2 separate regions of the Homo sapiens genome follow, and region 1 is linked to region 2. Evidence: fine-mapped expression QTL. A gene starts in region 2. The other region holds a variant in brackets. All regions are shown on one strand. Distances are between the middles of the regions. Region 1 has its middle 38 kb from the start of WLS. Region 2 holds the start of WLS (Wnt ligand secretion mediator).

Region 1 (5,384 bases), 38 kb after region 2:
GTGCTGCCAGTTGTAGAGCACATATGATTATGTGCAGCACATACAATGATGTGCGGTATATAATACTTTGATAATAATAATAAACTTACTGGTTTACGTATTTACTGTACTATATTTTTATCATTATATTAGAGTGTACTCCTTCTATTTATAAAAATAAAAAGTTAACTGAAAGATGGTCTTAGGCAGGCCTTTAGGAGGTACTCCAAAAGAAGGCACTATTATCACAGATGAGAGCTCCAGGTGTATTATTGACCCTGAAGACCTTTTAGTGGGACAGGATGCAGTGGTGGAAGATAGTGATATTGATGATCCTGCCCCTATGTAGGCCTAGGTAATGTGTGTTTTTGTGCTTAGTTTTTAACTAAAATGTAAAAAAGTTAAAAAAAAATGATAAAAGTAGAAAAAAAGCTTACAGAATAAAGATAAAAAAATAAAATATTTGTGAACAGCTGCAAAATGTATGTTTTAAGATATGTTATTACAGAAGAGTCACAATGTTAAAAAAATTGAATTTATAAAGTAGATAAGTTACAGTGAGCCAAGGTTAATTTATTATTAATGAAAGAAAAATATTTTAAAACAAATTTAGTGTAGTCTAAGTGTAGCGTTTGTAAAGTATACAATAGTGTACAGAAATGTCCTAGACTTTCACATTTATTCACTACTCACTCACCAACTTACCCACGGCAACTTCCAGTCCTGCAAGTTTCATTCATAATAAATGCCTTATATAGGTGTGTTATATGATATTTTATTTTTACTGTATTTTCCTATTTTACAGTTTTCCTATGTTTAGATACACAAACATTTACCATTGTGTTACAATTGCCTGCAGTATTCAATATACTAACATGCTGTACAGGTTCATAACCTAGGAGCAATAGACTATACCTTATACCTGAGGTGTTAGCAGGCTATACCATCTAGTTCTGTGTAAGTTCCCTCTATGATGTTTGAATAACAGCAAAATTGCCCAAGGATGCATTTCTCAGACGGTATCCCCATCATTAAGCAATACATGACTGTAGTTACATTTTGGTGAAAAGCTTGTGGCTTACTTTCTTTTCCTTGATATTAACGTATTTGTTGTACAATATATTAAAATTGGGAATACAAAAGGTGTGTTTGTGTGTGTGTTAATCTTTTTAATCACTTTCTATGGGAAGCGAGATTGCATTTCATGTGCACGTGCCAATCTCTCACTGTTGCTCACTGGGAATGACTAATATCATTTTTCTTCCTTCTGGCCTAATGCAAACAAGCCACTGTGACATCCAATTTCTGATTTTTGGTCAATAGAAGGCTCAGATTTCTATTTTTGTATTGCCAAACAATTTGCAGCTTTAAATATTATTTTTGTTTAGTATTCACACATGATAATTTTTTTGGAGGTATCAGTCAAAGGCCAAAGCCTTTTCCACACAATACCACTGACCTTCCTTCAAAATCCATGGATGCAAAAGGACAGATAGTGGAGTGATAATTGGTGAAATAAAGAGGGAGTTGCTCCAGACAGGAGACGAAAGTTGCTGCTATTGAGACCAAGAAATGAAACCAAACTGTTTATCTATTACTGTATAAAAAGCTAACCCAAAAGGTAGTGGTTTAAAACAGCCATATTTTTGCCCATAATTCTCCAATTTGGGCAGAGCATGGTGGTGGCAGCTTATCCCTGCTGTGTGGTGCTGGACAGGGTGACTCACCTGGGCTGGAGAGTCTATGGTGACTTCACTCACACGTCTGGGGCTCCAATGGGGGTGGCTGGAATGTGAGGTATGGCTGGGCTTGTTTCTCTTTATACAGCCTCTCTGTGCATCATGGTCAATGAACTCTTTATCAAACAGCATCCTATTAAATCATTTGATTCTCACATTAATCTCTAAGGTTGTATCTTAAGAACTGAAAAAGAAACGGAGCCCTTTTACTTAGTCTTGTTTTCCCACTCAACCTGTATTTTTCTTGGAACTTATATGTATTTACATATTTCTGTATGCAATTTATTTACTTTAGTTTATTGTAGGTATTCTTATAAACTGTCCTAATTCTGCAGTACAGATACAAAGATAAATATGTGGTTTGTTACATAAATATGTTACTATTTATCTATCTTAAATCAGGCTCAGGGAGGTTTAGTGACTTGATCAAGGTTACATGCCTAACGCATGACAGAGCCTAACTTGGTACTCAGCTTTTCTGAACCTGTGAGAGCTAAATAATAAAATCCTAATCATATTATCTATTTTAGATTTTCTTAAACTCCTAGGTTATAGAAGGATCACATAATTATTAAACAGAGAAAAAAATTGAATATAGCAAATAATTTTTTTTTTTTTGAGACAGAGTCTTGCTCTGTCACCCAGGCTGGAGTGCAGTGGCACTATCTCGGCTCACTGCAACCTCCACCTCCCAGGTTCAAGCATTTCTCCTGCCTCAGCCTCCTGAGTAGCTGGGATTACAGGCACCTGTCACCACACTCGGCTAATTTTTTGTACTTTTAGTAGAGATGGAGTTTCACTATGTTAGCCAGGCTGGTCTTGAACTCCTGACCTCATGATCTGCCTGACTCAGCCTCCCAAAGTGTTGGGTTTACAGGCGTGAGCCACCACACCCGGCAGCAAATAGTTACATACCTTTTTAATTAGGTATAGTCACCATGTTGTACAATAGAGCTGTTGAACTTATTTTAACTAATTTGAACTTACCTAACTGAAATTTTGCGTCTTTTGATCAACATTTTCCTAAGCCCCCTACACTCTCTAGCCCCTGGTAACCACCATTCTACTCTCTACTTCTCTGAGTCCAACTTCTTTAGATTCCACATGTGAGATCATGTGGTATGTATCTTTCTGTGCCTGGCTTATTTCACTTAACATAATGTCTTTCAGGCTCATTCATGTTGTCACAAATGACACAATTTCCTTCCTTTTAAAGACCAAATAGTATTCCATTGTGTACATATACCACATTTTCTTTATTCATTCATTCATTGCTGGACACTTGGGTTGATTCCATATCTTGGCTGTTGTGAATAGTGCTTCAATGAATGTGGAAGTGCAGCTGTCTCTTCTATTGCACATACTGATTTCATTTCCTTCAGATATATACCCAGTAGTGAGATTGCTGAATCATATCATGGGTTCTATTTTCAATTTTTTGAGGAACCTCCATATTTTTTTTTCATAATGG[A/G]TGTTCTAATTTACATTTCCACAAACAGTGTATAAGGGTTGCCTTTTTTCCACATCCTTGCCAACATGTTATCTTTCATCTTTGCAATAATAGCCATTCTGATAGCTGCGAGGTGATATCTCTCACTATGGTCTTAATTTGCATTTCTCTGTTGATTAGTGATCCTGAACATCTTTTTCATATACCTGTTGGCCACTTATGTGTCTTATTTTGAGAAATACCTATTCAAACCATCTACCCATTTTTGTATTAGATTGTTTTCTTACTATTGAGTTGTTTGAGTTTCTTATATATTTTGAATATTAACCTCTCATCAGATGTATAACAGATAATTTTACAAAGTAATATCTTATTTAAACTTCAGTTTACTTGAATTCCATTCAGTAAATACTTATTCAGCGATTACTCCATGCCAGGTGCTGATCTGTGTGCTTAGAACACATCTCTGAACAAAACAGATATTCCTGCCCTTGCAGAACTTACTTCCTAAAAGTGACATTTAGTAAACAAAACAACCAAATCATTTTACTGTGGGAAGAAGAATTTGCTAATGTTGTTGTGCAGAGATTGAGCAGGAACTTATAGTGATGATTTCATGGTATTATGAAATGATTTCATGGTTTTTTTGTTTGTTTGTTTGTTTGTTTGTTTTTTGAGACGGAGTCTCGCTCTGTCTCCCAGGCTGGAGTGCAGTGGTGCGATCTCGGCTCACTGCAAGATCGGACTCCCGGGTTCACGCCATTCTCCTGCCTCAGCCTCCCGAGTAGCTGGGACTACAGGCGCCCGCCACCACGCCCGGCTAGTTTTTTGTATTTTTTTAGTAGAGATGGGGTTTCACCATATTGGCCAGGCTGGTCTCGAACTCCTGACCTTGTGATCCGCTCGCCTCAGCCTCCCAAAGAGCTGGGATTAGAGGCGTGAGCCACTGCGCCCTGCCGGTATTAGTTTTTAAAAATATTTTTGTTAAAGAAAAATTCAACTCTGCCAATCTCTACTTAATTGAGAAATCTGTGTGAGCTTTACCCTTGGCTATGTCTCTTTAAACCCTTGAACTTCTCTGTCAATGATTTTTATGCAGATTCACAATTAAAATTCTAAAGTGTTCTTCATGTCCCCACCACTACTCCTCTCCTCTTAGGCTGACCCTGAAAAGACAGACTTCCAATGCTTCATGCATGGCCCTTAATTTTATTCTTACTCTTCACAGTTGAACACAAATATCAGCTTAAGTCCAATAATAATCTATTTGAGATGTAGATCTGCCATTTAGGGGATATCTTTTATTATGTCACAATCACTTTTTTGTTATGGCTTTTCACATATTAGAAGGGCAAATGCGATTAGCTATTCAAATAATAGAACAAGCAAAAATTGCTGCATAAAGATAATGATGCCATCCGAATTGAACCTAGGAATCCTGGCCGAAGGCACCACTAGTTGAGAGTTCAAATTCATGCTCATTGGGTGATGTGTGGAAGCTGATATTAATTTAGTACTTTGAGTGTCAATGTGCAATGTATAAGATTTCACACATTAAAAAAATACAAATTTGAAGCAGGGCACAGTGGCTCACGCCTGTAATCCTAGCACTTTGGGAGGCCGAGGCAGGCGAATCACGAGGTCAGGAGTTCTAGACCAGCCTGACCAACATGGTGAAACCCCGTCTCTACTAAAATTACAAAACTTAGTTGGATGTGGTGGTGGGTGCCTGCAATCCCAGCTACTCAGGAGGCTGAGGCAGGAGAATCATTTGAACTCAGGAGGCAGAGGTTGCAGTGAATCGATATTGTGCCACTGCACTCCAGCCTGGGCAATAGAGCGAGACTCCATCTCAAAAAAAAAAAAAAAAAAAAAAGATAAAAATTTCGAAATTTGAGAACCATCTTTATGAGAACAGCTCCTGATCCTGAAGTTCTTACAATTCAGCTCTGAAGGCCAGATAGATATTTTAAAATGTCAGGAAACAATAAGGCCACAAGGGGAAAAAACAAAGAAATGATACAAAATGATACAAGGACCAAACCGATGAATGGAGTAGGAAACAGGATATTTTGATGCAGATGATATAGTAGGTGCTTGATAACATTACCTCATTTAATCTTCATGACGATACAGTTTTACTAATTAGAATTTTGAATAACATGCAAGGGCCATTAAGGAAATTTCTTATGGACATATAGTTAGAAAGAAAAAAA
Region 2 (5,342 bases):
TGGATAATGGGCTCTGTCTGCAAAGCTAGGAGATCAGCCTAGAAAAAGAAACACACCAACAAACACCAGGAAACTATGTGTAATGGTTTGCTGCTTGTGCAAAAACCTCAAAGAGGATGAAGGTCAGACAGGGATAATAGGCCAATTTAATTCTGAAAGCACAAGGTGCAAGAAATTTTAATTATGGTCTGCCACTGAAATCACACAAGATCCAATGGCATCTAACTGCAACTGCTCATCAAGGGAGACAAGAGGTGTAATTGTAACCGCTGCATAATCACTGTGAGGGCACAGGGAAGGCTGCCTTCAGCTCCCAGCAGAGAAGGTATTAAGAGCCTCGAAAAATCCAATACGGGGAAACGAGATTGCATGTAGCCAAACAGAAGCTCCTAACACAAAAGCCAACCCGTGTGTGTGTGTGCGCGCGTGTGTGTGTGTGTGTGTGTGTGTGTTGAGGGTGAGGGTTCCAGAAAGAAAATGTGAAGCTGTTTGGCCCACACTGGGGATAAGAGATTGTTTGAAAACTCTGAACCCTTTTCTGTTTTGTGGATAAATGCACACAGAGAAAAGAGCACTGTCTCCTTTAGGTATTTCTCTCCTTGATGAAGCTTCACCCACTCTCCTTTGTTTAAGACAATTGGCTTGGATGTTACCGTGATTTACAGTACCAAACTCCCTTTAATTTGTTCCCATCAAACCCAAGTCTGGAGACAAAACGCCAAGCACACGACTGGAGGTGCCCAAGCCTGTGCAGCTCTGGCAGCGACGCCGCCGGCGCCCCCGGGCGTTTTCCCCGCACCCCACATCGCGTGGGCGCCCGTAAAGGCACGCGCGGAGAAAGCCCCTCCGTGGACTCCCCACTCCGCAAAGTTTAACAAAGCCGTGAAGTAAGGAAACCGAACCTCCCGTCCGCGCCCGCTGCAAAGTTGGCATTGAAGTTTGTGCCGGGATGTCCCAAATCTTGAGGGGGCGGGGGGCGCGAGTGTGCAGAGAGGCGGGAGGATGGATGCAGATGGGGAGACAGTGAGGGGAAGGGAGTTTTTCCGAGTGGACGGTCCGTGAGGCGGTTTTCTTCACCCGGAAGCCTGTTTGACTCAGAGAGGTCCGGGAGGTGCACGCCAGGGGAGGTCTCCCGGGGCGGGCGCTGTCGCCGAGGAGGCCGGCGAGCTGTCACCTGCGGGGGGCTGTGGTGGGAGCTGAGGGCGCTCTCCTAAGCGCCAAAAGAGGACGGGGACATTCACAGTCACCGGCTCTCGGGGCTCTAAGTAGTGGGGGAAGGGATATTCACGAGTGGGCAGGAGGCCAAAAGCAACACCTTTCGGATACGCTTTTCCCCTCCGACCTCTCCAACTTCCCGCGGCGCTGGTCAAGGACTCCCTCCCACCCCACCCCATCCCACCCAACCTCCCGGCCGACAATTCGGACCTGTCCACGGCAGAGCGTGGGGTGGAGTGCGGCGGGAAAGCAGAGGGCGCGAAGGTCGGGACCCCAAATTGCAAACCCTCAGCCCCTAGCAAAGACGACCAAATGCATTTACAACCGTGCAAGTATCTCAGCCTTGTAACAGAGCTCCGGGTTTGCGCCGGGCACAGTTCCCCGACTCTTCTGTTGTTCCTAATAAAGTCGATTACGTTGCCCTCCCGGAGCTGATTGGAAGGGAACCGAGAGGAAAAGGGGGGGAACGCGGGAAAAAGCGGGGGGGGGGGGGGGCGAGCAATCAACTTTGTAACCCAGCGCTTCCTCGCGCGATCCGTCGCCATGCTTAAGATTCCCACCCCCGCCGCCCCCCTCTTGCCTTTCAAGTGGATACTGAAACTAGGCCAAAACTTTTTCCCCTCCTTTTCTCTTAGCCACTAGACTGGATTGTGCCCCACGGAGCCCCATGGAGCTCTGCTTTCTTAAGCACAATAGCCGGACTAATTAGATCATAGAAGCAAGGCAGTGATACTGTAACAAGTAGCCCAAGAGGCAAAGAGGGAAGGGGCCCGAAAAGACAGAAAGGGGGAAAAGTTTGCAGCTCTCCGCACTTACCAATCAAGCCTCCCACCAGAAAGGCGATGATTTGGAACACGAGCAGAATCCCACCAACAATGCACAGCTTCTTGGTGCTCATGTTTTCTATAATTGCCCCAGCCATTTTTGCGCCCCCCCTTTTTCTTTTCTCCTTGAAATAAATGTTTTAGGGTGAGCTTTTTGCTCCCTCCTCTCACACACTCCCTCCTTCCTCGCCTCCTTTCTGGGCGCTGCAAAACTTCAGAGGTGCTGGAGCGCGGCGAGGATGGGACCGGGACGGAAGGCGCCCGCACGGATTCCCCCGGCGCAGCCGGCTCGGGTTCCCCCAATGCCCGGAGCTGTGATTGTGGCCGCTCCGCCGCCTGTGGACGCTTAAAGGAGCAGGGAAGCGGATCACATGACGCCGCCTCCCTCCCTTTCTTCCTCCCTCCCTCTCGCGCTTCCTCCCTCCCTCCCTCCCTCTCTTCCTCTACCCCTTGCCCACCAGTTCGGGGCTCAGAGCTCTGGCGGGTGCTGGCGCCTGGCTCCCGAGTCTGGCCTGCAACCTGTCTCTCCAAGGTCTGATGCCATTTAGGGGTTGCTGTTGATGTTAAGCGGGTTCCCCCTGCCCAGCTTCTCACAGGTTTCCTTTTCTGGTTTCCGAAGTGCGAGATTTAAATCACCGGTGGACCGCCTTGCAGACCTTTAACTTACGCGTTGACTTTAGGAAATGGTCCCCACCCCACCCCCAACTGCTAGAACTCTCTTTAGGAAAGAGGAGGAGAATTTTTTTTAAAAGGACCCAATAGATGCCTAAGTCAAAACACAGAGATGCGGAATAAAGTCTCAGCTCGACTTCTTTCTACCAGATTCCCAGCCTCGGTTATTGGGCACATACCCAGCTAAATTCCCCACGGCGCCCCTTGAGGAAACTTGCTCTCCAGCCAAATCAGACCACTGTTCGTTACTCCAGCACATGTGCTTCCACAGCCTTAACCCTGGTTATTGCCTTAAAGAGAACATGTTCTACTCCATCAATGTTAAACCTGATCCAAAACCAACTAGTGTTAAAAAATCTTTCTAATTTTCCACACCACCTCCATGCAGTATCTCTGGGAACTGAGCCCCTACAATCCTGTATTTACATTTTTACCTCCTATTGTAAGGATTTGTGTACACGTTTGTCTCCACCACTGAGCTGTAAACTCCTGGGGAATAGGGACCAAGTTTTTTTTGTTCTTTGTACCCCCCATGGTGCCTAACAAAATGCTAGCTCTAGTAGGTGCCCCATAATCTTTTGTGGAATGAATAAGTGAATGTGAAAGCAAGCCCACAGTTTGTATTTCAAAGGTCTAAAGAGATCTTAGTTGGTTTAGAGGGTACCTATATTAAGTTACAATGTTTGTTGTCTCTTTGTGAGAAATCATATATTTATATTTATACTTAACTTCCATAAAAAGAGGGGCGGGGCTCCCGATAGAGATTTCCTGCTCTATCAAGCCTAAATTTCTGGGCCTGGTTTTTCCATGTTTCATAAACTGGCCGCTTGGCCAGTACAACTCACCTTACTCAATAGACCCTTGGTTTGGTAAATACCCCACCCTGCTCCCCAAACGTGCAGTTTCTACCACCACCACCCACACATCTTGTTTCTTGTCCCTCCCATCCTTACACACCCTCTTCATGCCAAGAGACTATTTTTCCCAGTCCTCTCTCCTCCTCTACTCTGTTCCTGAATTTTCATTGCCCTTATAAAAGATGTCATGCAGGTTACACTTAATAGAAGCATTCATTTCTAATCTCCAAATAGAACAGAGACTTGTCAAGGACAAGCACCAAACTTTATGCATACAAAACTCCATCTCTTCAACATCTAATAGTTCTTAACAGTTCTGAGGATATACACATCATTATGTGTCACATAAGGATGTTTCAGTCAACAACAGACCGTGTGTGTGACAGTAGTCCTATAAGGTTATAATACCATATTCTTACAACACCTTTTCTATAGATATGTTTAGATACACAGAGTGCTTACTATTGCATTACAGTTGTCTACAGTGTTCAGTACAGTAACATGCCAGACAGGTTTGTAGTCTAGGAGCAATCAGCTACACGGTGTAGCCTAGGTCTGTAGTAGGCTATGCTACCTAGGTTTATGTAAGTGCCCTCTATGACATTTGCACAATGACAAATCACCTAACAACACATTCTCAGAAGGTATTCCCATCATTAAGCAATGCATGACTGTGGTTGCTGTTTATCTATTCTCTCATTCAACTCTTTATCCAAGTCACTTATTGAGCCTTTAACATGTTCCAGGCTTTCTTTCTTAAGCACTCAAGGATACCAAGATGTCAAAGTACTTGCACCTGCCCCAGAGGAACCCCCCCCCAGTCCAAATGTTATTCACTGAATAGTAATTAATTACCTCTACTTTGGCAAACACCAGGTACTATCAGAAAGGATGAAGTAGACAGAATTGTTGTCCTTCCAATGTCCTTCAGTTCAAAGTACTCAGATACCTTGGGGTATCATGTTCTGAGCCCAGCACTCCTAAGGGCCCATTTATCTTTCCTAAAAGTCATTTGTTTTCTCATAAATACACTTCTTCTCCTATTAAGATAGAATATAAGCTCCAAATTCTATTAACAACTGCCTCCTTGAGTGGTTATGAATGCCCACATACATTTGATATATGTGAACAAAAATTTGTCTTTTGCCTTGCTAATCTGTCTTTTGTCAGTTTAGTCCACAGACCCCCAAGCACTATGCATAAGAGGGTAGAGAAAAAATGGTGGGTTTTTTGTTTATTTATTTGTTTGTTTGTTTTTGAGACAGAGTCTCATTCTGTCGCCCAGTCTGCAGTGCAGTGACACGATCTTGGCTCACTGCAACCTCTGCCTCCTGAGCTCAAGCAATTCTCCTGCCTCAGCCTCCTGTGTAGCTGGGATTACAGGTGCCCACCACCACATCTAGCTAATTTTTGTATTTTTAGTAGAAATGGGGTTTCGCCATGTTGGCTAGGCTGGTCTTGAACTCCTGACCTCAGGTGATCCACCCACCTCTGCTCCCAAAGTGCTGGGATTACAGGTGTGAGCTACCACGCCTGGCCCCCGTCCACTTCAAATATAAACTGGATCCATAAAAAATGTCTGGAGTGGTAGAAGTGATTTATTCAGATTAGTGAACTCCTTGACTTAGTTTTTAATGAGCTGCTACAATACACCCCACCCCCTCTGCTCTGAAATGCATCTCTGCAGAGTAACTAGCCTAACTCCTTAGGTTTCAGTTTTCTCATCTGTAAATGAGTTGCTGGTTCTCCACCAAGATGATCCCCTGCTTTAAAA

The links. PIP is the estimated chance that this variant, and not a neighbour inherited with it, causes the effect.
Region 1: its variant is fine-mapped to the expression of WLS in whole blood (TOPMed, PIP above 0.99).

Annotation. Positions count from the first base shown.
Region 1 is chr1:68,268,098-68,273,481 of GRCh38, forward strand. No RefSeq gene overlaps it. Among named protein-coding and RNA genes, the nearest start is that of WLS, 38 kb to the left of the region's middle. The variant A/G (reference allele first, on the strand shown) is at 3,190.
Region 2 is chr1:68,230,163-68,235,504 of GRCh38, forward strand. WLS (Wnt ligand secretion mediator) reads right to left here and starts at 2,361. Exons shown (of 12, transcript NM_024911.7): 1 at 2,032-2,361. The coding sequence starts at 2,137.